2 separate regions of the Homo sapiens genome follow, and region 2 is linked to region 1. Evidence: fine-mapped expression QTL. A gene starts in region 1. The other region holds a variant in brackets. All regions are shown on one strand. Distances are between the middles of the regions. Region 1 holds the start of COMMD8 (COMM domain containing 8). Region 2 overlaps GABRB1 (gamma-aminobutyric acid type A receptor subunit beta1).

The links. PIP is the estimated chance that this variant, and not a neighbour inherited with it, causes the effect. A credible set is the group of variants that fine-mapping cannot tell apart.
Region 2: its variant is the best candidate, but not a certain one, in a credible set for the expression of COMMD8 in neutrophils (BLUEPRINT, PIP 0.85).

The regions. Positions count from the first base shown.
Region 1 is chr4:47,462,427-47,465,461 of GRCh38, forward strand. It overlaps COMMD8 (COMM domain containing 8), which reads right to left and starts at 1,276. Exons shown (of 5, transcript NM_017845.5): 1 at 1,160-1,276. The coding sequence starts at 1,225. LOC107986277 (a long non-coding RNA gene) reads left to right here and starts at 1,457. Exons shown (of 3, transcript XR_001741683.3): 1 at 1,457-1,525. RefSeq lists a silencer at 1,007-1,266 and an enhancer at 2,915-2,964.
Region 2 is chr4:47,410,126-47,412,625 of GRCh38, forward strand. All of the region lies in intron 8 of GABRB1 (gamma-aminobutyric acid type A receptor subunit beta1), which reads left to right. Among named protein-coding and RNA genes, the nearest start is that of COMMD8, 52 kb to the right of the region's middle. The variant G/A (reference allele first, on the strand shown) is at 1,380.

The DNA.
Region 1 (3,035 bases):
AGGGGGAAAGAAGAGCTGAGGCAAGGGCATACTGAATTTGAGGTACCTGTGGCAGAAGCCTGACACTCAGGGAAGAGATTTTGGTTTGGGGTTTTTGGGGTTTTGTTTTGTTTTTTACCTGGCATTCTTGAACCATAGAGGAAGAAATTTTTGGCTGGACCTAAAGATTTAGAAGTCATCGACATATATGGTAATAAAGGTTATGGGCCTTATCTAAATGGGTAGAGTGAAGACAAGGAGAGCCAAAAGCCAATAAAACACTCAGAATCAACAGATCTGAGCATAAGTTCCAGCTCTGCCACTAACTGGATGGGCAATCCTGGGCAAGTTAGCCAAAATTTCTGCTGACATTTCAGGTTCCTCACTTGCAAAAACAAAGAAAAGAATTAGGTGTTTTTTTTTCTTGACCCTGGCAGGAGGTAAGTTCATTCCTTTCTGTCTCCTCCACACTTTCTCCAGTATAAATGGAATAGAGGAAACAGGAAGCCAAAATTGAGACTTATAAAAAAGATGCTCCACCAGGGCACAGGCTGTGTCTCACTCACCATTTACCTCATCCCATCGGGGCGCTCAATCTATGGTAGACTTCAATGAAAAACTGGCTGAACAAATGAATGTGGTTGCTTTTTCCAGATTCTTACAAGCCAGGTTCTTTTACAGACTGGAAGTCAATGGGTACATCACCTCTTGGGACGATCCTAACTAAAGTAACTCGCCCAGTTATTTCTCTTCCTACCAACCACCCTCAAGGGGGGAGGCAGGGTCCGCTTCGGTCTTTGTCACATTGTATTCCAGCACCTAGCTCTGTACCTGCTGTCCGGTAGGTAGGGAGCCTTTGGGAGGTTATGTGTTGAATGAATTAAGAAAACGTATACTAAGAGGCAGCAAACACCGACTTAAGCTTTCAAAGCCCAGTCTGGTGTGGGCGCTTCTGCGCGCAAAGCCCCTGGAGCTGCACCTCTAGGCTGGGGGTGGCGCCCCAAGCTGTCCTCCTAGGCTCCCCAGGGAAGGCGGGGACCAACCACCCGAAATCACGCCCCTTCCTCCTCCCTTCCCTAGGGAGCTTGCGAAGGCGTCCGGGTCGCACCCGGCCTGATCCGCACGCCGGGCTGTCGCGAATCCCAGGCCCCGCGCCGCTTCCCCCGGTACCCGCCCTCACCTGCGGGCCCAGCTCGGCCGGCAGCTTCTGCAGCCGCCACAAGGGCGTCCCCTCTTCCGGCTCCATCCCTGCGCGAAGCTGGGGCTTGGGTCACGTGTCAAGGCTGGCCGCTTGTCTAAAGCTACGACTCGCCCACGTGACTCTCGCCGGCGGGGAGGGGCGTGGACCCAAGAAGTCCCTGTGCGCTTGCGCAGAGACCGAACTACCGCTTTCCCCGTAACCAGGGAGACTGCAGTTTGCAGTGATGTGGCTAAGATACCCTTGTGCTATTAAAGGCACATTTACGTATCTTTCAACGCAGTTTGTACCTTTGTTTAGGGTTCTATTGAACTTTCTCTGTGCTCTTTAGAAAACCGTCGAATAAAGGTAACCATCTTTTTGGGTGCCTGGGCATGGTCATTGTCCCAGAGTTTTAACAGAAGTCTCTACTAAAGTATCCTGATTTGCAAGGTAAATTAAGGTTTTGCCATGAGCAACGTTCTGTATATAGATCATCCTAGGGAGAAGGTACTATTTTCAGCCCTATTTGCAGAAAGCAAACATGATTAGAGAAGTCACTAAGGTTGTCAGATTTAGCAAATGAAAATACCAAGCGTCCAGTTAAATGTGAAATTTCAGATAAACAATAATATTTTGTTGTAAGTATCCCCTAAATATTGTATGGGATATATTTATACTGAAAATTATTTGTCCATCTGAAATTCAAATTTAACTGGTGTCCTGTATTTTATCTGGCAACGCTAAAAATCACTGACCTAAGTAAGAGGCCCAGTCTGAAGTTAAACAAAATCAATCAGACTCAAGAGCCATGCTATTAATGTTGGACTAAGCTCAAAGTCCAAATATCCTTTCTGTTATTTCTTATTACAGCTGTTACTTTAATCAGGTGCTGAAGAATTCAGTGGTGGTAAAATGAGCATGTCCTGCAAAAGCGGATAATAATAACTAGTAGACCAGAAACAGGAATTACAATCTAATTTATAAATTTAATAATAAAAGTGGTGCAAAATGGTGAAGCAGAAGAGAAAGTATTCAATCTATGGGCTACGCAGAGAAAAACTACTCATTAGCAGCATTCTAGGTTTACCTCCTACGTCCTTTCTCTGTGTGCCTCAACTCTAAAAGGTGAAGTCAATTTCTTTCTCCCGTGAGTTTTCATGATATTTTAGCTGTCCCTCACTTATTTACCACTTTCTAGTTCTTAATGCAGATAGATGCACAACACTCATTGCCCTATCTTAAATGTAATTGTCTTAAGATACTTTGTGAATAGGAGCTCCCCTAGTAATAGTTAAAATGAGAAGTCTGGAAAACTACTTCACCTGAGTCTTTCTGTAAATCTAATGATGGGTAAGGTCTATTTTGAGAAAAAAACTTAAATTTTATGTATTATAATAATTGGGAGAAAAGTACTTTCAAGCATCTACTATATGTCAAACCCTTCATATATTTTTATCTTACTAATTCCTGCTACAGCCTTGTACAGTGGGTATTACAGATGAGGAAATGAACTTGAAGTAATATATTTTGTAAGGTCACATAGATAGTAGTTACAAAATCACTGGTCTGAGGCCAGAAACGGTGATCTCAGTTTGCATGCTTGACTACCCCTGCTGAGGAACTGAAATGATATGGCTTACCTAAGGCCACGTAACATGACTAAATAAGGTAAAATGACACACCTAACAGGGCCCAAGGTTTAGTCAGAGGACAGAGAATTAGGTCCTAACTCATCTTTCAAGCAACACTGAGTACTAAGAAGAATTTGATCTTTACTCTTGAATTTGGATGGGACAAAATTTAGCCTGCAACAAATATGGTTTCCAAAATAGTTAACAACTTGCAAGAGAGACAGCGCTTAATATTTGCCCTTTGA
Region 2 (2,500 bases), 53 kb before region 1:
AAATTCCTCAACTGTCAGAAGACAATGCTTAAAGGAGATTTTTTTAAAATATGTTTTTATCCATGGAAAGTTAGACTACGAACTCCACAAATGATTTCCACAGAAAAATAGACATAATTCTGACAAAATTCAAAAACAAATCATATTAAAACAGGGCAGAGTACTTTGTATCAGAGTAATCCTCCTATTGATAGAAATAATAAACTGTGAGCACATTTTTAGAAATCTGCTTTAAGACATGGGAGAGTAACAAAACAAGCAAAAACTAAAAGAGAATCAACTTTCAAAAGGAAGGAACCACACTGTGTGAAATCCATGTTTATGCAGCTTTTCCCCTGAAGCCATGTCCCAGACTGAGGGATGTGGGGCAGCAAAACTTCAGCAGAAACTGAAGTTGTATTGACCTGAAGAGTCAGATCATGGAGTTTGATTGTTCCAGAGTTCCTGGAAATTTTAGAAGTGAGCCACAACAGAAACTCGACACCTGAGTGTAAACTTCCCCAGCTTGATCCCTGAGCTACAAATGTACAAATGTACAAATACCAAGGAGCACAGAAAGAAAAAATAGCTAGAAGCTGGGGGAAAGAAAAATGAACAGAGATTTTAGTTACTGTCCACTATATAAAAGTCAGAGTTTGGAGTTTGAATCCAGCCTGTTGGGGAGTGTGGGGGTGGTAAGCACATTAGGTTTTCCATAAAAATCTCAAGAGGCTTATACCTTAAGGGTAAAGATAAGTCACAAGAATAAGGGATTCCCCTTGGGTTAAGGGAAAATCTAAAATAGGCTCACCCTAATGACACATAAAACCAAGTCTCCACATATTCTGGATGATATGTTAGTCATATAACTGCCTACCAAACCAAACTCAACATTCTTTGGGGAAGATAGCAGAATTTAGAGTCTCTATGGTGCATCATTCAAAATATCCAATATATAGTAAAAAATTACTAGACATAAGAAGAAACAGGAAGATGTGACCATCATCAAGAGAAAAACATTTGTCAACAGAAACAGAGCAGTAAAAGTCTCAAATATTGGCCTAAAAGATAATTAGTATAAATAACTATAATTAGTGTATTTTAAAGTTCATAAGAAATAGCCCAAAACTGGAAACAGCCAAAATATCCTACAATAGATGAATGGTTAAACAAACTGTGGTATATACACACTATGGAGTACTATTCCAGTAAAAAAGAAATGAACTGTTGATACATGCAAAAACTTGGATGTCTCTCAAGGGCATTAGGTTGAGTGAAAAAAAACAGTATTAAAAGGTTATAATACTGTATTATTCCATTGATATAATACTCTTGAAATAACAAAATTATAGAGATGGAGAACAGATTAGTGGTTGCCGGGAGTCAGTGATAGTGAGGAA[G/A]GATGTGGGATGGGTATGACTGATTATAAAGAACTAGTGTGAGGGAGATCATTGCAGTAATGGAATAGTTCTGTAACTTAATTGGAATGCTTGTTACATGAATCTACATATGCAATAAAATTACACAGAACTATACACACTTTATGTCAATGTCACTTTCCTGACTTTGATATTATATCATAGTTATGTAAGATGTAATCAGTTGGAGAACCTGGGTGAGGGGTACATGGGGCCCCTCTGTGCTATCTTCACAACTTTCTGGGAATCTGTAATAGTTTCCAAATAAAAAGTTTAAGAGAAAGTCAGTAGGAAAAATTGATATAGTGTATAAAGAAATGGGGAGTTTCAGAAGATAGTTGAAACTATAAAAGTGGAACAATGGAAATCATAGAATTAAAATTTTTATTAGATGAATTAACATCACATTGTATACAACAGAAAAAAATGATTAGCGAAATTGAAGGTCATATTGGGCTTCTCTCAATTTCTCAATTGTAGCAGTTCTTACCATAAATGCTACTACTTTGGGGTTGCCTTAATAGACACTCTCACTCTTGATTTATTATTTGGTATCGCTGTTAATTGTTCTTATGGGATCCTGTGCTTTTCCACAATAAGACTTCCATGATAGTGAGTATATGTTTATTTGTATAATTATCTTTTAACATCTGTTTCTCCTTTTAAGCTACAGCTTCCCAATTATACACCCCAGAGCCCTTGTCTTTTACATTCATTGTTCTTTCCTCAGTAGCTAAAATGTAGATAACAAATAAGTACTTGTTGAATGAATGAATTAATTAATTAATACTGGAGAGTTGTTCTCCATTTTAGATGTTTTTAGAAATCACGCATTCAGTGTTACACTATGTTTTATAAAACTCGTACATATTCATAATAAGTAAGAAAAAGAGACTATACTCCACTTCAGCTTCTGCTCCAGACTGTCTTACTGTTCCTATCATTTTTATTTTCAAAAAAAAATTTAAACATGCTTTATATCAACCTCTGGTATTCTTTTTGAATCACTGTGCCATATAGCATTACATGTAATCTTTAAAGGAGCATTATGGCTAAGATTTTGAAATGGCACTGTTCGTCTGGGAGTAACGCCCAAGGTTCAT